Homo sapiens: one gene and its partner. The protein of the gene in region 2 purifies or fractionates together with the protein of the main gene of each other region. This does not show direct contact. Each region holds a gene or a part of one and is shown on either strand. Other genes may lie near its edges. The genes, in order: TMTC4 and OSTM1.

Region 1 (16,698 bases), on a different chromosome or scaffold from region 2:
TTCTGTACTCTGCTCTGAGAAGCAGGGGCTGGGAGTCTGCAACTACATTTCCCAGGCTTCTTCACCCTTTTGTTCTGTTCTGTCAACAGGCACTGGATGGTGGGGAGAGGGGAGCAGTCCTTTCCTCTTACTCTCACTCTCTCCTTCCTTCCCCTGGCAGTGTCTCTGAAGTGACTATGTCCCCTCCTCCACCGTCCCAGGGTGGAAGCAGTGGTCTGTCTCCATGATCACAGCTCTTGAGGCTGTGGTAGCTCCAGAGATTGTAACCTCTTGTGAGTTTTTAAATCTTGGTAGTGCCTCCTGTCTGTTCCCCCAAAACATATAGGATTCCCTTTAATCTCTGAGTTCATGTTACCATCCCATTTTTGCTCATCCAGCCTTCCAATGAGTCTAACCAATTCCTTATATTAAGTCTTCTCTATCTAAAACACTTAGAATGGTTTCTGTTTTCCTGGACACATCCAGTCCTTCCATCATGCATTGTCTTCCGCAATCCCTCTAGCCATTATTGCTTAGAATATAACTTTCTAAGATTAGTAATATGTCCCAGTAATTGCGCTCTTCCTGACTTCCTATTCCACAAGAGAACTGCCTTATATTCTCTCCATATTGGGGTCTAGAAATCAAAACAAATCGCTGTCTCCTGTTACTAGAGAGTGATTTCTTAAAACAAACAAACAAACAAACAAACAAAAAACCCTCTTAAGCTATTAAGTTCTTATTTGCCAGTATATAAATGGGTTGGTTGAGTTGTTAAAGATTAAGCTCTTAATGCTTTTAAGCTGTCAAAGAGGAAAAAGCTGGATAATTAAACCACAAGGGAAAGCAAAAGCCTTAAATAAGCAGGAACAGTTGGCGGAATGGAATACAGGAAGACCATTTCACGGCAGTGTAATTAGTAAACAATATAAACCAAAAGCAGTACAAGGTCTCAATGTGTTCAATGCTACAGATGATCTTCCAAGTGAAAGTGTAATGAATCCCAAGGACTACAGCACATGATAAAAGCTGGTACTTTATATTCTCCGTTCCTCCCTTTGGACATCATTCTTACAGAAGGAGCATTTATTATAAATCCTCTATTTTCCAAATCCCAAGGAACTGCAGTGACGGGCAGCTACTAGGAGAGGGGAGAAGACTAAGCTGTGGAGCCTAGAGGATAACCTGGGAGGCTGTGGGCAGACCCACTCACTTTGTGAGCAATAAAGTAACAGAAGAGCAATCCCCAGAAAAGGAAAAAAAGGGATGAAAGAAGAATTCTTTTTTTTTATTTTTATTTTTTGAGATGGAGTCTTGCTCCGTCGCCCAGGCTGGAGTGCAGTGGCGCCATCTCGGTTCACTGCAAGCTCCGCCTCCCGGGTTCACGCCATTCTCCTGCCTCAGCCTCCTGAGTAGCTGGGACTATAGGCGCCTGCCACCACGCCTGGCTAATTTTTTGCATTTTTAGTAGAGATGGGGTTTCACCATGTTAGCCAGGATGGTCTCGATCTCCTGACCTTGTGATCCACTCGCCTCGGCCTTCCAAAGTGCTGGGATTACAGGCGTGAGCCACCGCGCCCAACCAAAAGAAGAATTCTTATGAATACCAAGTCTCATATTTAGTCACTGAGTACTAGTTTAACAGATACAGTGAACAGAAACGGTAATCCCTACACCCATATATTCATAACCACCCAAATGCATGAATTCAGGTAAGACCTCATGTGCTCCCATCCTCCACCCCACCCCTATTCTCACTTCACTAACTTTGTGAGGATCGCCCCTGCTTTGTATGTGATTGAATTTTGAAGTCACCACTCGTAACATTATGTTGAGGTTTCACAGCCTCCCCTTCCCCCTGGGAACAAACAGCCGATCATTATAATAATTTCAGCTCTCCTGGAATCTTCAGGTCTCACAGAGAAACTGGTTTCAACATCAAAGCAGGTAACTAGGTCATAAAGCACAGAATTTTAAAATGTAAAAGAACAAAAATGCACGCAAGGTCAGTGGTTCTGGAGAAAGTTAATGTGAGACAAAGGAATATCTTGCCATTAATCTTCCTTGTTCAAGCATCATGCCATTCCATGAGTTCAGCCACATTCCTGCCACCCTTGCCTCTGTGCCCACGAAGAAATAATTCCTCCTTTCCACAGTGGAGTCAGCACATAGAGGTGGTATCTTCCTGTGGCATATCATAACTGAAACATGTTTTGCATTTTTTGAGTAATAAAAATGCGGTGATATGGTTTGGCTGTGTCCCCACCCAAATCTCATCTTGAATTGTAGCTCCCATCATTCCCATGTGTTGTGGGAGGGACCTGGTGAAAAATAACTGAATCATGGGGGTGGTTTCCCCCATACTGTTCTCGTGGTAGTGACTAAGTCTCATGAGATCTGATGGTTTTATAAGGGGAAACCTCTTTTGCTTGGCTCTTATTTTCTTTTGTCTGCTGCCATGTAAGATGTGCCTTTCACCTTCCACCTTGATTGTGAGGCCTCCCCAGCCACATGGAACTGTGAGTCCATTAAACCTCTTTTTCTCTATAAATTACCCAGTGTCAGGTATATCTTTATCAGCATTATGAAAATGGACTCATACATGCAACCACTTCACTTTAGTATTTCTTTTTTTTTAAATTTATTATTATTATACTTTAAGTTTTAGCGTACATGTGCACAATGTGCAGGTTAGTTACATATGTATATATTTCTAACACAAGCATTACTCGTCCACGTAAAGGGACTTCTGCAGAGGGGGAAGGTCACATTTTACCATTAGTTAGCCAGACGTTCCTGCTATCTTGTTTTCTCCATTCATAAGATTCTATCTCCACAACTCACAAAATCATGGCTACCCACTCCAGAAACAAAGACAGTAAGACCAAAGACATTCACATTATGGTAAAAACCAAAGCCTGGTTTTCCAATAAATGTAAAGCAGTCAGTGTTTTCTAGGATTGTTCCCCACAAACCATGGCTTCTGCTCTGACATGATTACCCTGTTATCCAAGTTCAGACAGAGCTGCTTCCCTGCTGCAGGGCCAAGGGCAGGTTACTGGAATCACCTGGGTGATTCATTATTGTTATTTTACTTACTTAATTTTTTTGAGGCAGAATCTCACTCTGTTGCCCAGGCTGGAGTGCAGTGCCGCAATCTTGGCTCACTGCAACCTCTGCTTCCCAGGTTCAAGTGATTTTCCTGCCTCAGCCTCCCCAGCAGCTGGGATTACAGGCACGTACCACCATGTCTGGCTATTTTTTGTATTTTTAGTAGAGATGTGGTTTCGCCATGTTGGCCAGGCTGGTCTTGAACTCCTGACCTCAAGTGATCCGCCCGCCTTGGCCTCCCAAAGTGCCGGGATTACAGGTATAAGCCACTGTGCCCAGTTTATTATTGTTATTTTAAAACAGATTCTCTATAGAGCCCTTGATTCCCTAAATGTCAGATGGGGTGGGACGGTCTGGATGCATGTCAGTTTTGGAAACTACTAGTTGGGTTTTGTTTTTTTTTTTTTTTTTTTTTGCAGAAGGAGAAGGAGCCAATGCAATGGCTGGTCTTTATTGGAAAGATGAAACTTTATAGCACATTTTGAGTAACTTGGTGCAGGCGCTCAATGCACCAGCTGATGGGTACCAGCTTGTAATGGGCTCCACAGCTGGGGCATTGCTGGGTCTTGCCTTTGTGCGGCCAAAACCAGATGACAGCACTGTTTTCCTCTTCACAGATGCACCCACTATTCTCTTGTTGGTGATGGAGGGGACTAAATTAGGGTCTTCCTTGGTGCCTAAAGCTGTCTTTGGGGGTAGTACATTGTATGGGTCCAGTCTCTTCCTTGCAGTCATCATGACCTCCATCTCTAGGCCAGTCACCTACTTGTTATCAATAGAAACACCACCTCCAGGCTGGGCATGGTGGCTCATGCCTGTAATCCCAGCACTTTCGGAGGCTGAGGCGGGCGGATCACGAGGTCAGGAGATCTAGACCATCCTGGCTAACATGGTGAAATCCCGTCTCTACTAAAAATACAAAACATTAGCCAGGCATGGTGGCGGGCGCCTATAGTCCCAGCTACTCCGGAGGCTGAGGCAGAAGAACGGCGTGAACCCGGGGGGCGGAGCTTGCAGTGAGCCGAGATCCCGTTGAGCCGAGATCCCGCCACTGCACTCCAGCTTGGGTGACAGAGTGAGACTCTGTCTCAAAAAAAAAAAATAAAAAAAAAATAAAAAAAGAAAGAGACACCACCTCCAGAAGCCATGGCACGCACCGTGGCCATGCCATTGGGACCGCCAGCCCTCAGGGCCTGCGCAGCCAAGCGCTCCAGCTCCATGAAGTAACCTTGAAAGCCATCGACAAGCAGCTAAGGGAACTACCAGTTCTGACAACATAAGAACTCTTTAAAGCGAAACTCTGTCTCCAAAAACAAAACAAAACAAACAAACAAACAAACAAACAAAAAACAAAACCAAGAAGCTTCAGGCCTTTAAAACGAGGGCAGCAGACATCTCTTTAGAACACGAGGATGCCTTCCTACCTGTAAGGCTAAGCTGGATAAAATCTGGAAATCTACATATAAACTTCTGTGAAAGTCATATCACTATGGATGTATTCCAGTTTGGTTAGAATGAACACAAATTTTTTAATTAACAATGTTTATTGAATACATCTAAATATATTAGGAACATATGTATTTGTTTTCTTGAAACCAAATTAAATGGTTGATTATAGGGAGAAGACAACCATTCGTGTTTAAAGAATTTTGCTATGTGTGTGTCTCATTTTATTTTTGTCAAGAAAATCAAGAGCAATCAGATCTTCGTAAACATCCTGTCAATAACCAAAAATATAAAGCTACTACAGAACACGTTATTTTCTATTTCCACCAAATAATGTCAAAGCCCTTTCAAATAAATCCCGTGCCCTCCAAAGCTGCCTTTTTTGGGGGAAATGCTCCCTGCAGATGAAGAGCTCTGCTCCCTTGAAGAAGGAGAACAAGGGAGCTCAGAAATCATACTACGGATTTGTTACTTTAATCTCTGTTCTTACTCAATTCTTGTTTTAAAAACAGAGAAACTGATGTTTATCAGGAAGTTACCCATTGGAGTGCTGTTTTACAGGGCGGACGGGACTTTAACATGTTAATTTATTCCTGGGTTTAACCTTTTGCGTGGGTGACCTCTTAAACTTGACTAATTCACACTGTACTGCTCTCTAATGAGAGCTTTAAAAAATTACTCAAAAGGAAATCAAATAGCTACCTTCAAATGAGATAGAAACATGTGAAAGAACTTTATAAAATGTATGGGCTAGGTGGGTGTCACTATGTCATTTTATTATAAATAAGAAAAATAACCCATCTTTCCTTCCACAGGCACAGGGCACCCCGCGCTTACCAGACGCCCGAGGTTGTAGTAACAGTCTGGGTATTTCCTTCTGTGTTTAATTGCTGTCCGGTAACTTTGCTCTGCTGCTTCAAACCGTTTCAGGCTATTCTGCACTATGCCTAGATTCATCCACGCAGCGGCAAAGTCTGGCCTAGAGGAGCAGTTTTAACAAAGATAAACAAGAAGATGAAAGGCTTAGATGCCGGAATGCAGGAGCTCCTTTCTTTGTCACTAGCATAATTATAAAAACAATGCTTACTGTATTTGAACAGCCAAAGACAGCAGCTCCTCAGCTTCCTGTAGCTCATTCCTTTCTTTTAAGATATTTCCAAGATTATTCATGGCATGAACATACTTGGGATTTAATCTGAAAGTTGAGAAAAAACCAAGCTGACCATTAAATGCTCAATAGTAAGTTTTTACTAAACTCTCAGGAATCGGTAAAGATATTGTAAAGTTGGGGTCTTTAAAGGAACAGGTGTTTCATATTAGAAAGTGAAAACGATCTGTGTACATAATTCTTCTGTAAGACATACTCGCCATACCTTACAGCTTCCCGGTAGTATCTGATGGCAGCTGTCTGGTTGCCTTTATCAGCCAGGTTTTTGCCAATGTTGTAGTGAACCTGCAGACAGAGAATAATTGGGCCATCAGCAGACAGACTTCTTGTTCAGAGCCTGGACCCCATCACATCTTCTAACTGAAGACAAAAGGTAAAGCGACGAGGAAAAAAAATCACCCACCAGAACTTTAGCTAAAACCCTACAGGGGTTAGGAGTTGCTTGTGCTTTAATCTCCAACCCTGTAAGAGGATCAGAAGAAAGGGGGTATAGGCATGATACATCTCTAAAGCACAACAGAAGGGAAATAACTAAAGACCTCACCAGAGACAACCAGAAAACTACAAAGCTGGGCTTTTTAAAATTTTACTTTTGATTTTTAGAGATGGGGTCTTGCTATGTTGCCCAGGCTGGAGTGCAGTAGCTATTCACAGGTGCCATCATAGCGTGCTGCAGCCTTGAACCCCTGGGATTCAGTGATTCTCTTGCCTCAGCCTCTCAAGTAGCTGGGACTACAGGCATACACCACCACACCTGGCTTGTTTTTATCATCAAAACCTCAAATTCCCCTCACCTACACACTCCACTAGAGTTGAGATAACAAAGTCTAGTCACATGTGGACATGAGTAGAAGAAAGCATGATTCTGTCCACCCATTTAAGCAAATATGGCCCTTTCTTGGATGGCACCTTTCTTCTATAGCTAGCATCACAAGCATTTTACTCTGTATCTGTAATAAGCAGAATGTTTATGGACTCTCAAAATTCAGATGTTGAAATCCTGACTCCTAATGTGATGGTATTGGGAAGTAGGGCCTCTGGGAAGTGATTGGGTCATGAGGGTGGAGGCCCATGAATGGATCAGTGCCTTCATCAAAAAGGCCCTGGAGAGCTCCCATGCCCCCTTTCCGCCACGTGAGGACACAGTGAGAAGACGACCGTCTGTGAACCAGGAGGCAGGCCCTTACCACACACCCAACCTGCCTGCACCTTGATGGTGGGCTTTCCAGCCTCTGGCACTGTGAGAAATGAGTGTCTGGCACCCTGTCTCTGGTATTATTCTCACAGGGTCTGAGCAAGGGCCTCGGTGTGGCTGGAGCACAGAGAGCAGGGATGCAGGTTGGAGAGCCCGGGAGGAGCAGCTGCGCTCGCAGGGAACCCTGAGCAAGGGCAGGCTAGGATCAGTCGTTGTCCTCAGAGCCACGAGGCCGGCGCGGGGCGGGGTCTGTAAGTGTGTGAGTGCCCCAGGGTTGCAGCAATAAAGCACCACAAACTGAGGGGCTTAACACAACACACTTCTCTCACAGTCCTGGAGGCTGAGATCACGGTGTGGGCAGGGCTGGTCCCATCACCGGCTGAGGGAAGAGACTGCTCCCTGCCTCTCTCCTGTCTCACGGTGCTTGCCCATAATTTCCGGCTTGCAGATGCCTCGCTCCCACCTCTGCCTCTGTCTTCATGACCATCTCACCTCTTGTCTGTCTCCCTGTCTCTTCTCCTGTCTTAAAAGGACACCAGTCACACTGGATTAAGGGCCCACCATCCTCTTGTATGACCTCATCTTAACTGACATCTTAATTACATCTGCAACAACCCTATTTCCAAAAAAAGGTTATACATTATACTTCTAGGTCCCAGGGGTTACGATTTGAGCGTAGCTTTTGGGAGGCACAATTAAACCCACAGCAGGAAGCCAGGGGTGGGAGGGTGGCAGAGGTCACCACCATGTTTATGTTCATATGAAACAAATCCCGTGGTGGGAAAGAGATGTGAGTGGGGGAGAAGCAGGTGTCAGGGGCTCCAGGGAGGCTGTGGCTGCAGTCCTAGGAGAGAGGTCAGCAGACTGAACTAGGGTGGTGGTGAATCTGTGGAGGGGTTTGAAGAACAGTGAGGAAGCAAAAAGCATACAAATTGGTGACCAACTGATAGGAGAGAGGGAAGAGTGTCAAGAACAAGTGGTAGGTTCCCAACATTCAGGACAGAATGGGTGTGATGACTTTCAAGAGATGTGATGGGTGACCAGCCTTGTTTAGGGGTACAGGATAGGCTGACGTGGAAGTCCATGGTCACCATCCATCTCCAGAGTTCTTTCATTTTGCAAATCTGAAACTCTGTACCCATTCTCACCTCCACCAGACCCTGGCAACCTCCATTCATTTTCCGTCTCTATGCATTTGACTCCCACGTGCCTCATGTAAGTGGAATTGTACAGGATTTGTCCATTTGTGTCACATGTGTCAGAATTTCCTTCCTTTTGTGGCTGAATAATATTCCCTTGCATGAGTACACCACATTCTGTTTGTCCATTTGTCCCTGGATGGACACCTGGGTAGCTTCTACTTTTTAGCTATTGTGAATAACGCTGCTGTGAACATGGGTGTACAAATCTCTCTGAGTCTCTGCTTTCGGTCCTTTTGGATATTTGCCTGGAAATTGAATTGTTGGATCACAGAATTCTGTTTTTAATTTTTTGAGGTACTAACATGGATAGTTTTATGTTATAGGAATTTTACCTCCATTTAAAAAAAAGAGAGAATGAGGAAAGGATTTTCAATGACTGAAGAGGGGGTGAAGTAGGCTGGATAGAATGGGGCTCCCAGCTGCCAATCTACTAGGAATTCTCAGGTCACCTTGGAACGAGGGCATCAGGGAAGCCAACGTCTGGTAGTTTCTCAACTAAACATGGGCTTAGAATAAATGACAAAGAAAAAAGTGGGGACTTGAACTAAGCCTAAGGCAGCCAGACTACACAAGCTCACGAAGACTACAATAAAAAGAATTTGTTGGCCGGGCGCAGTGCCTCATGCCTGTAATCCTAGTACTGCAGGAGGCCAAAATGGGTAGATCACCTGAGGTCAGGAGTTCGAGACCAGCGTGTCCAACATGGTGAAACCCCATCTCTACTAAAAATACAAAAATTAGCTGGGTGTGGTAGTGCACGCCTGTAATCTCAGCTACTTGGGAGGGTGAGACAGGAGAATCGCTTGAACCCAGGAGTTGGAGGCTGCAGTGAGGCAAGAGCATGCCACTGCACTTCAGCCAGGGCGACAGAGCAAGACTCTGTCTCACAAAAAGAAAAAGAAAAAGTGAAAGAAAAAGAAAAGTATTTGTTGATGATCAAAAGCTCCTTTCGGGACTTTACAATACAAAGTGAGTAGCAAGCCCAGAGGAGACGATGCTACAGAAACTCACTCAATCAGAAGCATGAAGTGTGGGTGCTGCTAACAACAGTCACGGTGAATGGTAAGATGGTGTGTAGCTGGCACACCTTGAGTGGCACCCACCAGCTGGGAGCGGTGTTGCGTGCTGTGTGATCGCGGTCTTTCCTCACGGTGGCTCGAGGCCGTGGCTGCTGTGACCCTCTCTTCTGAGTTGATAAACTGCTTCGGGGCCATTCAGCGTCTCATCTAGGGCTGTGAAGTTGGATTAGAACCAGGCTCTGAAGCCTGTGTTTCTTCCCACTAGATAATACACATTGATTACAGTGCTGGGGGAAGATGAGGGTGACTGCTCGAGGCACTTTCTAGATCCACTCATTCATACCACTGGCCTTTTTCCTAAGTAAAATCACATTTCTTTTTATATGTTATTGTCCCCCAAAGTTTACATTAAACCCTCAGCACCCCAGAATGAAAATGTATTTGGAGATAGGGTCTTTAAAGAGGTAAGTAAGGTCAAATGAGGTCATATGGTTGGGCCCCCATCCATATGACCCCAGTCCAGTATGAATGGCGTCCTTACAGAAAGAGGAAATATGGACACAGACACCAGAGATATGTGTGCACAGAAGACACACCACGTGAGGACACAGGGGGAAGGTGCCGTCTGCAAGCTAAGGAGAGAGGCCTCACAAGAAACCAACCCTGCTGACACCCTGATGTGACAATTCCAGCATTTACAACAGTGAGAAAATTAACTGTGGTCTAAGCCACCCAATCTGTGTGTATGTGTGTGTGTGTGTGTGTGTGTGTGTGTGTGTGTGTGTATGTGTGTGTGTGTGTTTATAGCAGCCTGAGAAAACTAATAAAATCTTGAAATACAGAAGTGGTTTAAACACATTCAAATAACATTATGTCTGAACACTGCTTCCAAATGACCCCTGAAAACACAACCACATCCTGCCTTATCCATCTTAACCTACAGTTACAGCACTTCGTCAAACATACTTAGATTTCTGGAAGAATATGCAGCAGTGCATATTAACAGGTTTTCTTAACTGCCAATTTAAAAGCATATAGATTTATGTTTACCCACTCTGATGAAAGGACTCACAAGCAGAGAAATTGCAGGTGATAAAAATGTGTGTACTACCATGCACCACACAGTAGAATTTAAGCTTTCTGCATCAAATTATTGTCCATTCATAGGTATTTTTGTCCTCAAATTGTAGCTTGGAGGAGGCTCAGTTAATGCTATCGCTGAAGTGTGTGTTGAGAAAAGTGCTCTAAATGATTAGAATTTGAGCTTCCCCCAACCCAGCTTGGACATGTGACTTCACCTCCTCTCGTATGCACAAAACAACCTAGGGCCGGAGAATCCAATCTGTCAGTGATGTCCTTGTAGTCCTCAGAATACAAATACAGCTTCTACTCAGACATCAACACGACGCCCGCCTCTTCCGCCCCAAGCTCCTGCTGTTTTCCTTTGTTCCAGGCAAATTCTGTTTTCTCAATAAAAAGCCCAGACAAAGAGTTCAACCGCCCTCTGCAGTATAGACAGTGTTCTGTTAGACACTCAGAATGCCAGAGACCAGAAGATCAAAGGAGAAGGACGTGGGACTCTGGAACAGGAACTAGTTAAAAATCTGATACAGCCTTAGAAGGCAGGCCATCATTAAGAATTGGTAAACAGGTTTCCCTAGAGGCCAGCTTTATCCTATGGGTTAGGTGGAGGGAATTCTTTGAATAAAAAATAGCTGCCTAGATTGCAAAACAAAACAAAACAGAACAAAAATCTCACAACCAGGTCACTTAAAATAGTGTTTAGAGAATGACTGACTTTTGTTTCCCTGAAATATAAATGATTGAAAAGCTTGTTTATTCTTCAACTTTCCCCCTAGCATTTGTGATGCACATGCTGAGGCAATGAACTAGCACAGAAGTCGAAGATAAAACAAACATTACAACCCAGTAACATGTAAATGCAAGAAAGTGAGAGTATCAGTTATGAAAGGCACCTTTAATACCAGGGCTAAACTAATTTGTTATAAATATTCTGGCAACATCTAATGTTAAACTTAAAATGTTTTGAAAACATAAAAATCCTATAGCATCCTGGGTCACTTACTCCTTAAGAAAATACCTCATTGTGGCATATGATCTGTTTCATTGTTAAAAGAATTTATTATAGAATTGTATCACAGAGTTGATGGTGTGACATACTTTTAAGCCTTAAAAACTAAAAATGATTATAAGTATACTTGGTATCTCATCCACAGTAGTCTCAGTGAATTCAACTTCCCTTTGGCTGAATTCAATAACTAATATTGATTGTCTACCATATGCAAGGCACTGTGCCTTGACATGCAGACCAGGGACCAGCACTACCTACACTGACATTGCAATCTCTCAAAAAAGATGAGTCTTAGCTCACACATCTGGCCCTAAATTAGAGCCAGTTGCCAATTTCTTACTTTATATTCAATAGATATCAAATGAAACCAGTATAGAAAATGTGTCCCCTGAAATAATGGGACTGAAGGAAACCAGTGTCTTCCTAAGTGAGATTACTTTCCTAAAATTAACTTACATTTTTTCAAAAAAAAGGAAGTAAAGATAATTTTATGACACTTCAATTTAAAAAGAAACTCCCAAAAATCTCAATCTTGCTTATATTGAATAGAATCATTGAAAAATGTTCTTGAGAAAGGACTATTACCACTGGGTCCATTTTGAAGATGAGGTCTTATATGTATTCCTTAAATTAAGAGGAAACCACACACACACACACACACACACACACACACACACACACTCTCTCTCTCTCTCTCTCTCTCTCTCTCTCTCTCTCTCTGTCTTTCTCCTAATACTTACGTGCATTCCCACAAGCACACGCCCTGTGTTTTCTAGCCTGTAACATATGAAATCACTTCCCGGGCAGATTTTTGGGTTCAGACATCACCTATGTTCCATCCCCCTTATTTACTAGAGGCACCTGGGCACATCACCATACCAGGTCTCTCTGTAGCCACCTACATTACTAACCTAGATAATGTCAGTTTAATCTTGCTATGCTTCAGTTTCTCCCATCTGGGAAAACAGAGAAAATAATACGCTGTCTCTCTAAAAAGCTGAGTGAGAGGATAATAGAGATGAATTATAGAGCCTCTGTAAAGAAATCTGAACTCCTTGTGGTGAGGAACTCCACACATAGAAGGGGCAATTACTGCGATTCAAACAGTAAAGGAAAAATAAAGCAGATCTATTAACGTTTAAGAAATTAAATCACAGGCAATTTATTTTTGGTAGCATAAAATAAATTGATAAGTCAACAAATCAAACTAAAGATAAAAGCTGAAAGTAATTCACTATTTTATCTAAGTCTCTTAACTAAAATATGAATGACAGGTTTTAATCCAAGAAAAAGATAAGTAGCCAGCATCTCTTATATATTATTCTTTACTTAAGTTTCATAATAAGATGTCAACTATTCATTAGTTTTGTTTATATAATTTTGTCTGAAATCACTGCTTTCCCTTAAATATGGAACATAGACATGAAACAGATCCAGAGAGCTCCCCGTCTCCACCCAGGAGGATTACATTTAAGCAATCTAGGCAGCTCTTATGCTGAGGACCTAAGAGAGAATGATCATTATTTCATGATAATAATCTATACTAAAAGAAAATTCTTCTAACCTAACCCCTTGGCCCCCATTTTGAGCAAATAGCGTTCTCTTCCCAACATAATGCAAAACCCAAACTGAAATGAACCTACAAAAGCTAACACTTGGCTGGGCGCGGAGGCTCATGCCTGTAATCCCAGCACTTTGGGAGGCTGAGGATGGGCGAATCACGAGGTCAGGAGTTCGAGACCAGCCTGGCTAACATAGTGAAACCCCGTCTCTACTAAAAATACAAAAATTAGCCGGGCATAGTGGCGCATGCCTGTCCTAGCTACTCGGGAGGCTGAGGCAGGAGAATCGCTTGAACCTGGGAGGCGGAGGTTGCAGTGAGCCGAGATCAGGCCACTGCACTCCAGCCTGGGCAACAGAGCAAGACTCCATCTCAGGGAAAAAAAAAAAAAAAAAAAAAAAAAAAAAAGCTAACACTTTCTGAGCACCTACTGCTGGCCACCGTGTGAGGGCATTTTAGTTCATTCAGCCCTAACAACAAATCCAGCAGATAGGTATTATCCACTTCTGATAGAAAAGGGCACTGCAAGTTTTAAAAAGTGTAGTTTTGCCCAAAGAGGCACAGCTAGTCAAGTGAAGAGCTTGGATTCATCAAGAATACAAGTGAAAAAATTCCTACCAGATTGCTTCAAACAAAAACACTGCCAATTTTAGAGTACAGTCATGCATTACTTGATGACAACAAGGATACATTCTGAGAAATGCATTGTTAGCTGATTTTGTCATTGTTTGAACATCATAAGAGTGTACTTACACAACCCTAGATGGTAAAGCCTACTATACACCTAGGCTATGTGTGGTCTAGCCCGCTGCTCCTAGGCCAGAAACCTGTGTAGCGTGTGACTGTACTGAATGCTGGAGGCAATGGTAACACAATGGTAAGGATTTGTGTATCTAAACATAGAAAAGAGGCAGTAAAAATATTGGTCGGGTGCAGTGGCTCACGCCTGTAATCCCAGCATCTGGGAGGCTGAAGCAGACGGATCACTTGAGGTCAGGAGTTCAAGATCAGCTTGGCCAACATGGTGAAACTCTGTCTCTACTAAAAATACAAAAATTAGCTGGGTGTGGTAGCAAGCGCCTGTAATCTAGCTACTCAGGAGGCTGAGGCCGGAGAATCCCTTGAACCCGGGAGGTGGAGGCTGCAGTGAGCCGAGATCGCACCACTGCACTCCAGCCTGGGTGACAAGAGAAAGACCCAGTCTCAAAAAAAAAAAAAAAAGGTATAATTTTATGGGACCATGGTCATATATATGCAATATGCGGTTTGCTGACTGAAACACTGTTACATGGCACATGACTGTATGTACATTTATGTTTACCTAATCTGACCCCCAAAAAATCACTAGCAGGGCACCCAAAGGTGACATAAATGTGTACTATTGTGCAGCACATAGCATAAACTTCCTGAACTACATTATTGCCAATTTGTAGGCATTACTACCCCTTTAAATTCCAGCTTGGAGGAGGCTAGTTAATGCTATCACTAGAGAGTGGGTTTTGAAAAGTGTGCTCTAGACATCAGAATCTGTGCCGTGCCCACCCTCAGTCTGAATACGCAATGTCACCTCCCCTGAAGCTACTTCAAAGGGTGAGTAGATCATCTGGAAGATGATTAAGACCTCATTAGAGTCATCTGTTTCATTGATACTGTCTGCTTTTAAATGACTTCTTTTCAATTTTGGCTGAGTGGAATTTTAATGAATCTTATCAAAATCATTAAAAAAAACCATACATAACAAAGAAAAACCCAAGTATTCGGTCATGGTCTTACACTAAATACTGCGCGACAGGAAATGTTCTTATTCAGCCCAAGAACTTAACAGATACCCTAGTAAGGTCCCTTTAAAAGAAATCTGGCAGCTAGGTACCTTAGCATTGAGGGGACACACAGACAGAGCACTTCTGAAAAGCTGTTCCTCACTCCGCCACTCGCCGCTGCGCAGCACACATCTCAGCGTGTTGATGAATAAGATTCCCAGCACGACAGCGGCAATGAGTTTCTTAAGAACAGAAAGACATGGTAATTGTCACCAGTGAGATGCATCCGGTCATTCTGTTCATCAGCTGGCACCACTCTCAGTTGATACCTTTTTCTTGGTATGTTTGCTCAGGGCTCCGAATCCAAAAGTCAGCAGCACACAGTACCCAACGCTGGGGAGGTAGAGGACACGCTCTGCGACCACGAAGCCCACTCGGAAGAACAGGTTACTCGCGGGGAGAAATGGGATAACGAGAAATCCCAGGCCCAGAGTAAGGATCCTGGATGATGAAAAGTATTTAAATAAATGGCTATTTCCAGACTTCTCAAGAAAAACATCCTACTCCACATTAAATTAATGCTAAAGACCTTTTCTTTTCCATGGCATCAACTGAGAAAAGATATTGTTGTCAGCCAAAGGATATCATCAGTAGAGACAGTTTAGCTTGGTAGCATGTGGATAAGGCACAAAAATATTCCTCTGGCACTTCACAGCGAGTCTAAGGGTAAAACTCAAAAGCCATACAATTCGTATGGAGAAAATTAGCATGATCGCATTTCTGAGGCCTTATTAATTCACCTACTCCTCACTATGCCTCAAACCATTTAGGTACTGAACAGTTCAGTGGATATTGTTGGTCTCAATTAATTCAAAAACTGTCCCAATCAGTTTTCACGGGGAAAAAAAAATTCCTCCAAAATGTAATGAGAATAATAACACTTAAGTAAGTTTAAAGTTTATGAAATTTGAAATAAACAAATACCATTTTTTGGTTGCTACATCACCACCATAAATTTCAGTCAGGGAGATACGAAGCTGAGCATTGAAACACTTCTGGAACCACCTGATCATTCCCAATGTCCCCTATGATGCAAGAGGATGAATTAAGACTCTAGGTCAATTTTGGTGGCTCCTTCTTGGGCCCTGTGGCTACAGTATTTCTATAAAAATCCCATTTTCTGTGGATAAGGGAACTGGGACTAAAGTTTGTGGCTCCTTAGAATTACTAACCAATTCAACACACAGGTAAACTTAAAACTTAATTTATTTTGAGACATTACTAATCTAATTCCATAAACACTTAGGCTTAAAGGAAATCACCTTAAACAGTTTTCTTTTTCATGAAACACATTTGTTTTCCCCAATTATTTTCTCAATAACTTTTTTTTCCATCAAGAAAGAACAGTCTCTTTGGGGCAATGGCTTATTTTGTACCCAGCTACAACAGAGGGAATCATGGCAGCGTTCACCAGGGTGTTTTGAGGAAGAATTGTGCAATAATGGGCACAACACACATCAATTACACTCTCTGTTCTGACCGTAAATTACTCTTTACCACCTATGGTGAAAAGGATCGCAAAATGCTACTTCCTAGGGAAAGGGGAAGGGAGGGATGAAGCAGTCATCCGTAGCTCCTCTTCCAGCCTCGCTCCCCACCCGCGGAAGCCAGCCATGGATTCCAAATGGATGGAACTCATCCTAGCCATAAATATGCATTTGAAACAAATGTCCTTAGACGTGACTTCCACAAAATCATAAAAATGATCAGCGCAGGATTTCACAAAACGCTTCTGACTCAACCAGCGTGGAACTTAAGATTCAGTGCTGCCTCTTACCTTCTCTTGTGGCCGTCTTCAGAGCACAGGGCTTGGCATATCAGGCCAATTAGGCAGAACCAGAGTGCTGCAAGTGCAATTACCCTCCAGTCGCTGATGGACTTAATGAGGGGGATGCAGCCCATTGACCAATCAAAACACAGCCACCAGGGACACAGCAGCAGCCAGGCATTCAATGAATAGTAGTAATTGTAGTTTACGGCCTGCCAGTCAAAAGGAGAACAAACATCTATTTGATACTGAACTTAAAAAACACATATATACGCACTAACTTCACTTTGGAGGCACTCATATGCTTCTGCTCAATGAAAGCAGTTGTATCAAATAA
Region 2 (11,727 bases):
CTGCTCTTCATTCTTCATACCTTAAGGGTTCTCTAGGTGTGTGGTAGCTGCTGTGAGGCACTTAATTTTAAAAAGAAAAACAGACAATTCCTGCTCCTAAGTACTTTATAAAGTTTAGACTAGGAAAAGATTAGAGTGTCAGGGTTGGTGGGAGTCACGAGGTGTGGGCCGGATATGCTTGGTAAAGGAAAAACATGAGGAATAACATTGGGATTGGAGAATGAGAAAGTTCCTCTTGTATTACGGGGACAGCAAGTAGTCTCATGAAAATGTGGTTGGAATTATTCCATAAATTTAAACTTGTCTAAACTTGTTTATAGTTGCACTAAATATAAATTTGTACCTAGTTGGATCCTGCTTTAAGTCAGCCTGTTATTTAAAATAAATCTGTCATGGCTGTGTGCGGTGGCTCATGCCTGTAATCCCAGCACTTTGGGAGGCTGAGGCAGGGGGATCACCTGAGGTCAGGAGTTGGAGACTAGCGTGGCCAACATGGTGAAACCCCCGTCTCTACTAAAAATACAAAAATTATCCGGGCGTGGTGGCACGTGCCTGTAGTCCCAGCTGCTCTGGAAGCTGAGGCAGAAGAATTGCGGTACACGTCTGTAGTTCCAGCTACTCGGGAAGCTGAGGCAGAAGAATCACTTGAGCCTGGAAGGCCAAGGTTGGGGTGAGCCAAGATTGCACTACTGCACTCCTTCCTGGGCAACAGAGTGAGACTCCATCTCACAATAAATAAATAAATAAAAATAAAATAAAAATCTGTCATTTTACATAACTGGGGAATTTATTTGCATTAAATAAATTCTGTGGTCAATCTCTCTGTAAAGAGCATGTTTTTTTTTTTTTCTTTTTTCTTTTTTTTCTGAGACAAGGTCTTGCTCTGTTGCCCAGGCTGGATGGAGTTCAGTGGTGTCATCTCGGCTCACTGCAATCTCCGCCTCCTGGGTTCAAGTGATTCTCCTGCCTCAGCTTCCTGAGTAGCTGGAACTACAGATGTGCACTGCCACACCTAACTAATTATTGTATTTTTAGTAGAGACAGGTTTCACCATGTTGACCAGGCTGTTCTCGAACTCCTGGCCTCAAGTAATCCACCCACCTCAGCCTCCCAAAGATTTGGGATTACAGGTGTGAGCCACCACACCTGGCCAAGGACATATTTTCGAGGTAAATAAATTCAGGCTTACATGCGGTATTTTCCAGGCACACTTCCATTGGGTATAGCAAGGAATATATATCTTACTATCACTTTAAAATAAAGTACCCAAGACATGTCCCTGTCAACTACAGCAGGATACGATATAGCATCATATTCAGTGTTGAGTGGTTAAGATGAGTTGTTTTAGGGTTCCATTTACTCTAAAGAACAAGGGCTATTGTGGGCAGAATGGCCAGGGATCATGATGCAAAGTTTGGGTCTTTGAAGGCAGCAAATGCTTTTCTCATGTGTGTAGGTACTGTGGAATTAAAGAGAGGCTAAAAATAGCACCTCAAACTCTAGGGTGCAGTATTATGGGCATCACCCAATCTGCATGTGAATTTCCATATGAATTCCCCACTACCCAAAGGAGGCTTCCCAGTGGGGGAGTTGTAGAAACCCCCTTCCTTTCCCTCAGATTCTACCAGCAACCTGGGTACCCAGCTCAACTCACCCTGATGTGAAAGGAAGTGGATAAACAGGTGAAAAGAGGCAGGGAAACTTTTTTTGTATTTTCTCTCCAACTCATCCTAGGCCTTGGTCTCGGCTCGCCTTATTTCCCCAGTAGAGCTGGATATGATTCATTAGCTCAAAAGTGTGACATCTACAGTTCTGAGGTACTTTATAGATTTAAAAGGCTATATGGACTGGTTTGGGAGTTGAACCATCATGTATAATAATGAACTTATGAGGCCAGGTGTGGTGGCTCGTGTCTGTAATCCCAGCACTTTGGGAGGCCAAGGCAGGCAGATCACCTGAGGCCAGGAGTTCGAGACCAGCCTGGCCAACATGGTGAAACCCTGCCTCTACTAAAAATACAAAAAAAAAAAAAAAAAAAAAAAATTAGCCGGGTGTGGTGGTGCGCAGCTACTCAGGAGGCTGAGGCAGGAGAATTGCTTGAACCCGGGAGGTGGAGGTTGCAGTGAGCCAAGATAGTGCCACCACTCTCCAACCTGGGGGACAGAGTAAGACTCCGTTGCAAAAAAAAACCAAAACAAAACAAAACAAAAACCTATGGAAAAATGTGTCATGAGTGAACTTGAAGGAATTAGTTGTCTCTTGGGGAGGTTTATTTATCCAGTGTAGTATATTTTCTTTTCTTTTTCTTTTTTTTTTGAGACAGAGTCTTGCTCTGTTGCCCAGGCTGGAGTGCAGTGGCATAATCTCAGCTCACTGCAAGCTCCACCTCCCAGGTTCATGCCATTCTCCTGCCTTAGCCTCCCAAGCAGCTGGGACTACAGGCGCCCGCCACCACGCCCGGCTGATTTTTTATATTTTTAGTAAAGACGGGGTTTCACCGTGTTAGCCAGGATGGTCTCAATCTCCTGACCTCGTGATCTGCACACCTCGACCTCCCAAAGTGCTGGGATTACAGGTGTGAGCCACCACACCCAGCCCTTTTTTTTTTTTTTTGAGACGGAGTTTCCCTCTTGTTACCCAGGCTGGAGTGCAATGGCGGGATCTCGGCTCACTGCAACCTTCGCCTCCCAGGTTCAAGCGATTCTCCTGCCTCAGCCTCCCAAGTAGCTGGGATTACAGGCGCCCACCACCACGCCTGGCTAATTTTTGTATTTTTAGTAGAGACAGGGTTTCACTATGTTGGCCAGGCTGGTCTCAAACTCCTGACCTCAGGTGGTCCACCCGGCTCGGCCTCCCAGAGTGCTGGGATTACAGGCGTGAGCCACCACGCCCAGCCTATCCAGTGTAATGTATTTTGTTTGACTCAGACTCAGTCTTTTATTGAAATCAGTTTTTAGCAAGCACCTACTATTCTTGAATATTGGGCTGGTAAAAGGATAAGAAGGAAAAGAAGGGTAAGATTCAGGCCTCAAACTATCAGTATAGTTAGGGGAAATAAAATACCTTATATGGGGAAATAGGAAAATATCAGTGAGTGTTATAAATTGTACCATAGCAATTTAGAACAAAAGAGTGAAAGGAATGCCAAGTTAAAGGAGGGAACAGAGCCAGATGCAGTGGCTCATGCCTGTAATCCCAGCACTTTGGGAAGCCGAGGCAGGTGGATCGCTTGAGGCCAGGAGTTTGAGACCAGCCTAGCCAACATGGCAAAACCCCGTCTCTACTAAAAATATAAAAAATTAGCCAGGAGTAGTGGCATGTGCCTGTAATCCCAGCTACTCAGGAGGCTGAGGTGGGAGAATCACTTGAGCCTGGGAGGCTGAGGTTTCAGTGAACCAAGTTTGCACCACTGCACTCCAGCCTGGGTGACAGAGCAAGACTCCATCTCAAAAAAAGAAAAAAAAAATGACGGAACAGAGCAAGGCTGGTTCATCAGGGGAAACCTACAAGCTGAATCTCAAGGCATTCTTTCTACCCTTCTTTAGTGTGAATGGACATGGATTGATTGAGAGAGGAGAGGAGTATAATAAGGAGAAAAAAAGAATCAAAGCCAGAAACTAGTAAGCTATTTATGTGGTACAGCAATATAATTAGTTTAACTATAATAGAATTCCCTGATAAGAATCCTAGGTTCTTGTCACTTCCTTTTAGAATTTCTGGGAGAGGGATCGCATATAGTTTCATTATCTCAAGGTGAAAAATACAGTGATTTCTGAAACCTGAATGATAGAACTGAGGGATTCCCTCTTCCTTAGAGTCATACTTTCTCCTTTTAGTTTAAACTGATAGGGACATAGTTTCATTGTGATTCAGCATTATCGGAATGGTCCTGAGGATGCTTTTGCCCCCTCAGATTCTGAATTGGTAGGCTCTGTCCTATTCTACTTGGTTTGTTTAAAATTTAGATAGTGTTTAAAATTTAGATCTATAGATCCATCCATCTACCTATCTATCTCTATCTATCTATGTATCTGTGTATCTTTGTGAAGTGCTAGTCATTTGGGTTATGTATTTGGTGAGTATTCAATATACTTTTACTGTAGATTATTAAATAATGAATTCTGAGGACTATAGGGAGAAAGCCAGAACATAGTGTAATAATCTGTGTCTTTCATTAGAGATCAGAAAATGTAATATTTCTTCTGCATTCATTCAAAAAAATTATTGAGTACCTATTATGTACAGGTTGTGGTAGCTACTAGGGATATAGCATGAATGAGCAGAGCTTGTAGTCTGAAGACAGACATTAAGCATCTCATTATACAAATAATTATTTAATTCATGTGTGATAAGTGTTGCTGATTAAAAAACCCAGATGCTACCAATGCATATGACAAGAGTGCTGATCTTGAGTATGACTGGGGGGTAGGTAGAATGGTCAGTGATTAAAGCAGACACCTACAATTTGAGAGAACACAGGCAGGGGAGGGAAGGTATACATGTAAAGAAATAGCAGGCATGAAGACTGAGATGGGAAGGAGTTTGTGGTGTATCTGAGGTCTAGAACACAGCACAGTGAGCAAGAAGGAAACCCGTGGTCTGAGCCTAAGGAAGTACACAGGTGCCAGGTCATGTGGGCCTTGTAGGGTATGTTAAGGATTTTAGACTTTGATTTTAAAGCAGTATGACGTTAGTGAAAGGTTTAATTCTGTGGAATGACATAATCAGATTTGTACTTTAAAAGGCTATGCTGGCTATGTGACAGAAAATGGAGAGGGTAGGGGCTGGGGAGGGTAGGGGAAGAAGATATGTGGGGAGATGAATTAGGAGACTGTTGCAGTGGTGTGAGAGACAGTGGTGTCTAGGCTATGTGGGGGCCATCATGATGTGGAGAAATGGGTGGATTTCAGAGATACTTAGGAGGCAGAAATTACAGGCTTGGAGGTTAATTGAATGTGGGGAGTAAGGAAAAGGTAGTGATGATTTCCAGGGTTTTAATAAGAGCAGCTTAATGAATAGGGTTGTCATTTACTGAGCTGGAGGGAGGAGTCTGTTTAGTGGGCGAAGATCATTAACTCAGTTTTGAACGTGTTGATTTTGAGGTGTTTATGAGCTTTCTAAGTGGATATATTGATTGCCTATGTGGTTGAATATACACATCTAGAGGACTGGACTAGAGATAACACCTTTGGGAGTGTCGGCATAAAAATGGCATTTGAAATTATGACATGGGTGAACATACCTGAAGAATGAGTAGGAACACTAAGAGTTTAAGATTAAATAGAGGGTAAACTCTCAAAGGTGACTGAGAAGGAAGAATTGGAGAGATAAAGAAGAATGAGGAGAGCATGATGCCCTGTAAATCAAGGAAAAGGGAAGGGGTGGTTATTTGTGTCAAATCCTGCTGAGAGAATTGGAGATATATCTGTCAACACTGGCAGTATTGGTGACACTAACAAGAGTGAATTTGATGGAGTCCTTGGGTACGAAAGTGAGATCAGAGTGGGTTGAACAGGGATTGGAAGATGAGGACATGGGAAGAGTGAACCTAGACAACTGCTGAAGAGTTTGGCCTTGATGGGGAGATAAGAAAGAGAAGTCACTAAAGAGCAATGTGGGACTCAGAGACTTTCTTTCATTTCTCTTTCTCTATTTTTTTTTTTTTTTTTTTTTTTAGACAGAGGCTCGCTCTGTCAACCAAGCTGGAGTGCATGGCACAATCTCGGCTCACTGCAACCTCCACCATCCCAGGTTCAAGCGATTCTCCAGCCTCAGCCTCCTGAGTAGCTGGGACTATGGGTGTGCACCACCACACCCAGCTAATTTTATACTTTTAGTAGAGATGGGGTTTCACCAGGTTGGCTGGACTGGTCTCGAACTCCTGACCTTAGGTGATCTGCCTGCCTCGGCCTCCCAAAGTATTGGGATACAGGCGTGAGCCACGGTGCCAGGCTGACTTTCTATCATTTCTTTCCATTCCCCTGTCCCTCCATTCCTCTGTCCTGCCTTCCCTTCTTCCTTGTCCAAGATGGGAGAGAGCTGGACATGTTTAAATGTTGATAGTAAGGGTCCTTTAGAGAAAGTGAAGATTCTGTAGGAGGGAGTGGGAAGCAGACAAGGTCAGTTTCCAGAAAAGGCAGGATAGATGGGATCTAGGGCATCCTCAGAGAGATGGGCCTTGAAAAGGACAGGTGCCTTCCCCACCTTAATGGGAGGGTAGAAGGAGAGGTTGCATGTAGGGGTAGGCAGGTTAGAGTTTCAGCTCGAAGGCTTCTGTTATCCAGGAGGCTAGATCTTCTTTTGAGAGTAAAGAGTGGGAGAGAGATCAGAGTTTCTGGGAGAGTGGAGAGGATTTGAAATAGCGGTTGTAAAAAGGAGAGAATGAGCAGACAGAAAAGTGAGGAGTACGGTTTGGGATTATGGATTTACTTTGGAATTAATCTGTGTTGTTAATTTTTTGCCAGCAGCTCCTGACTTCCTGGGTGCAGGCATGATCAAAGGAAATGGCTGGCTTCAAGATGGTTAGGGTTCTGCTAAGTAGTTAGGATAGATTTGAGTATTAAGAGTTCTAAGTATAAGCAAGGACCATTGATTTTTTGGTCACTTGGCGAGGTGTTGGGAATACAAAGATGTGACAGTTTCCATTTTAAAGGGACATCTGTCCAGAAGAGAAACCTAAACATATATAGGTGGATATCATGCTTTAAGAAACCATGCATCAGGGTAATGACGCATGGGTCCCACATTGCTCTTTAGTGACCTCTCTTTCTTATCTCCCCATCAAGGCCAAACTCTTCAGCAGTTGTCTAGGTTCACTCTTCCCATGTCCTCATCTTCCATTCCCTGTTCAACCCACTCTGATCTCACTTTCACACTCAAGGACTCCATCAAATTCATTCTTGTTAGTGTCACCAATACTGCCAGTGTTGACAGATGTACCTCCAGTTCTCTCAGCAGGATTTGACACAAATAACCACCCCTTCCCTTTTCCTTGATTTACAGGACATCATGCTCTCCTTATTTTTCTTTATCTCTCCAATTCTTCCTTCTCAGTCACCTCTGATAGTTTACCCTCTACCCAGCTAACACTACCTATTTCATAGAGTTGTTATGAGGATTAAATAAGGAAGTTGGAACATTTGGAACTGGTAAGTAGTAAGTACCTCATCATCGTTTGGATTATTAATCATTTCCTTTCTGTCCTCACTGTTGCCATCATCCTTTCATTATACCTGATCTATGGAAGTAGTGTAATGAGTCTCCCTGCCTCCTCACCCTACATATCACGGCCTAAAGATGTATTCCTCAAACTGCTTTTCATGACACCCTCCTCATAAATCTTAAAGAATTTCTCACTGGCTAACTCTCATGACCCTCACGGCCTCTCATAACCTTGTTCTAACTTAGCCCTTTAATAGCCCTACTTTCATAGACTACTGAATACTCTCCGAATACCACATAATCATTATCACTTTCACCCCATGATCATTTAATTCTTCTATTTTCGAATCCTCTTCTCTTCCTCAATATAGGGCTTAGTTCATATCCTGCTTCCTTCATGAACTCTTTCCTAATTTCTCAAAACTACATTGATATCTTCCTGAACCGAACTGTTCCACACATTGAACACTCATACAGGCTCTACTGTATTGATTTTTAAAATAGCCAGTCACCCACTTATGAAGATTCAACTTAACCAACTAATGACACTTATCCAACTAAACCTACTTAGAGCACTTCAGGTTGGCAGCATGGTAGCTAGGTGAAATAGCATATATCAGTCACTGTGTGCCAGACAGTGTGCTGAGTGATTAATGTATGCTATTTCATTTAATACAGTAACTGTAGGACCCCTGATTTTGAAACTGAACCTTAGCGAGGTTGGGTCAGCTGCCCAAGGTCACTAGCTAGTGACCCAGGCTTGTATTAATACAATATTATTACTTCTACTTAAGAAGTGATAATAGGCCAGGCATGGTGGCTCATGCCTGTAATCCCAGCACTTTGGGAGGCCGAGGCAGGTGGATCGTCTGAGGTCAGGAGTTCGAGACCAGTCAGGCCAACATGGTGAAACCCCGTCTGTACTAAAAATAAAAATTAGCCAAGCATGGTGGCATGTGCCTGTAGTCCCAGCTGCTCGGGCGGCTAAGGCAGGAGGATCGCTTGAACCCAGGAGGCAGATGTTGCAGTGAGCTGAGATTGCGTCACTGCACTCCAGCCTGGGCGATAGAGTGAGACTCCATCTCAAAAAAAAAAAAAAAAAAGTGATAATAGAAAATTTTCTTCTATGGCTGGTATTGCTCAGAAGGTAATTCTAAAAAAGAGTTTTAAAATGTTCTGTTCATGGCCAGGTGCAGTGGCTCATGCCTATAATCCCAGCACTTTGGGAGGCCGAGGTGGATGGATCATTTGAGTTCAGGAGTTCAAGATCAGCCTGGCCAACATAGTGAAACCCCGTCTCTACTACAAACACAAAAATTAGCTGGGTGTGGTGGCATGTGCCTGTAGTCCCAGCTACCTGGGAGGCTGTGGCATGAGAATCGCTTGGATTTTATATTTTAAAGCAGAAATTCTTCCTTTTCTCCCTCTTTTCTCCTTTTTTCCATTTCTTCTCCCACATGACTGACCATTTGTTTCCCAGGAGTTACCACTCTTTTATTATTCATCACACTGTATAACTCCTTGTCTGTGTAACTGCGAGAGGTTCTCAAAGCCCCAGAATTGATGGCATTCTTTTATACTTTTTATATCCTCAGAACTTCAGGATTTTTATAGTGCCTAGTAAATAGTAGGAGTTAAATAACTTTGAAAGAATTAAGGGTCAGCAGGACTTAGTTCCTTGCTTGGGGCACGAAGGAAAGGAAATAGATAAGGATCAAATGATTTGGGAACTTGGATTTATTATTTGCATAGCATGAGTTTCTTTCATTATTAAAATGATCTACAAAAGCATATTTTTCCATCTGGGTACAAACTATTTAGATAACAAAGATTTTCTTCCTTTGCAAGTGAACCTAGTACCAATAAATGTTAGCTGCTAATTACTTTATTATCATTGTTTTTATTAATGTTAACATCTGATCATATCAAACAAAATGTTAAAAAGCTTATAATAAATGTTATTTTTGTAAGGTTTTTGCCTCAAGTTGTTTGCAAAGTCTGAAAATACTCAGATTGTATTTTTCTGTCTTCTTTTTGTTACAGAATACTTCAGAGAGTCAGAGTTGTGCCAGAAGTCTCTTAATGGCAGATAGAATGCAAATAGTTGTGATTCTCTCAGAATTTTTTAATACCACATGGCAGGAGGCAAATTGTGCAAGTAAGTAATTCTTTCATTTTCATGTTGCAGTTATGGTTCAGTAGTACAGATGTCAGATTTTATTTTAGTGAATTTTGGGATCTTTGAAGCTGGATAATACTTTTTATTGCTAAGTTTAAATAAACTGTCATGGACACCATGGTTTATTAATGGCAACTGAGCAAATAGCGAAAGGCAGAAAAGTGTAGCAGTTACTATGAGCTTTGGATTTAGATAGACTTGGGTTTGATTCTAAGCTCTGCCACTTACTAGCCCTAACCTACTAGCTGTCAGATATGGGAGAAAAACTTTGCCTCTTGGAAGTTCAGTTTCTTCATCTGTAAATTGGTGGTAATGATAGAACCTATCTTATATAGTCGCCTTGAGAATGAAATGAAATAAATTGTGTAAAGCACTTAGCTCAATGCCTGACACGTATTTAGTGTTCAAGAAATGTTAACTGTTTAGTATAATAATAATTATGATGTTTACAGTAATCTGTCAAGTGGTGTGTGGCAGGCGGCGGGGTGGGATGATGACATCTGTTCTACCTTCTTTGCAGGTTTGTGTGTAATTGTGTAATAAAATAAGATCTATTTTTAGATATTCTTTGGAAAAATTAAAATCACTTCCAATTCAGATGATGTTTTGAATACCAACTATGTGCTAGGCAGTTCTTATTTTTCAAGTCTTATAATTTAATGAGTGAGAAAGATATATTTACAAATACAGCCTAGGACAGACACATAAATGCTTTAATAAAGTTATAGAGTCCTTGGAGGAAGAAGAAAATAAATCTTACTGGGGAGAATTTGAAATGACTTCCTGGAGGAGCTACCTTTTGAACCTAGGCCTGTACTATTGGACATGATTTCAATAAGTAGAGATGACGCCAGTGAGGCGGCTCACGCCTGTAATCCCAGCACTTTGGGAAGCCAAGGCAGAATTGCTTGAGCCCAGGAGTTTGAGACCAGCCTGGGGAACATAGTGAGACCCCCATCTCTACAAAAATATATATTTTTTAAATTAGATGGACATGGTGGTGTGTGACTGTAGTCCTAGCCACTTGGGAGGCTAAGGCAGGAGGATCCCTTCAGCCCAGGAATTCAAGGATGCAGTGAGATATGATTGTGCCACTGCATTCCAGCCTGGGCAACAGAGCAAGACCCTGTCTTAAAAAAAAAAAAAAGTAGAAATGAGAGAAGGACATTGCAGGTAGTCACAGAGGTATAAAAGGGCAACAGATGTTCCAGGAAGCATAGTGGGAGGTAAAGTTAGCAAGGGAAAGTAGGACCTTGACTGACAGAGTAGTATACTATTTGGGCCAACATTTTTTATACTGCTTAGAATATCAGCATATTATTAAGAAGGGGTTATAGACCAGGCATGGTGGCTCACACCTGTAATCCCAGCACTTTGGGAGGCCAAGGTGGGAGAATTGTTTGAGCCTAGGAGTTCAAGACCAGCTTAGGCAACATGGCAAAACTTTGTCTCAACAAAAAATAAAAAATTAACTGGACTTGGTGGCATGTGCCTGTAGTCCCAGCAACTTGGGAGGCTGAGATGGGAGGTCAAGGCTGCAATGAATCATGGTTGTGCCACTGCTCCCCGCTCTGGGCAACAGAACGAGACCCTATCTACAACAACAATAACAAAAAAAAAAAAAAAAAGAAAAGAAAAGCTTATATAGTATTCTCCTATTATGATTATATAGTATTCTATTAGCCATGGTTTCACTTGCTGTAGTTTCAGTTACTGCAGTCAACTGCAGTCCAAAAATATTAAATGGAAAATTTCAGAAGTAAACCATTTATAATCTTAAATTGTGTATGATTCTGAGTAGCATAATGAAATCCCATGCCATCCTGCTTCATCTACTTGGGCTGCGAATCATCCATTTGTGCAGCATATCTATACTGTAGATGCTGCCCCTCCTGTGAGGCACTCAGGAGCATCTTGGTTATAAGGTCAACTGTCATGGTATGGCACTACTTGTGTTCAGGTAACCCTTAGTTTACTTACTAATTCTTTAATAATAGTAACATAATTATTAGTTTTTGTTTTTAATCTCTTACTGTGCCTAATTTATAAATTAAACTTTATCATGGGTATGATATAGAAAACAGAAAAAACCATAGTATATAGAAGGTTTGGTACTATACTAGAAAAAAAAACATAGAAATAGAAAAAAACGTAGTATATAGAAGGTTTGGTACTATACTTGGTTTCAAGCATCCATTGGGAGTCTTGGAATATATCCCTTGAAGATAAGAGTTGACTACTGTATGTTGTAGTATCTTTGGGATTTACAATGCACCTGGAATATTAAATGCATTGAGATTTTTTTAAAAGGGTTTTTTTTTGGCTCAGTGGGGAGGCTCACACCTGTAATCCCAGCACTTCAGGAGGACAAGATGGTAGTATTGCTT

The links.
Region 1: the proteins of OSTM1 (region 2) and TMTC4 purify together in Homo sapiens (co-immunoprecipitation; 2 studies listed by BioGRID and IntAct, with this or other methods). This does not show direct contact.

What each region holds. Positions count from the first base shown.
Region 1 is NC_000013.11:100,620,162-100,636,859, forward strand, and holds part of TMTC4 (protein O-mannosyl-transferase TMTC4), read right to left. Parts: intron 16,574-16,698; coding exon 16,371-16,573; intron 15,035-16,370; coding exon 14,863-15,034; intron 14,776-14,862; coding exon 14,644-14,775; intron 5,990-14,643; coding exon 5,910-5,989; intron 5,732-5,909; coding exon 5,624-5,731; intron 5,516-5,623; coding exon 5,374-5,515; intron 4,345-5,373; exon of another isoform or gene 4,226-4,344; intron 3,879-4,225; exon of another isoform or gene 3,512-3,878; intron 1-3,511. UniProt on the Homo sapiens protein: Transfers mannosyl residues to the hydroxyl group of serine or threonine residues.
Region 2 is NC_000006.12:108,061,777-108,073,503, reverse strand, and holds part of OSTM1 (osteopetrosis-associated transmembrane protein 1 precursor), read left to right. Parts: intron 1-9,204; coding exon 9,205-9,319; intron 9,320-11,727. UniProt on the Homo sapiens protein: Required for osteoclast and melanocyte maturation and function.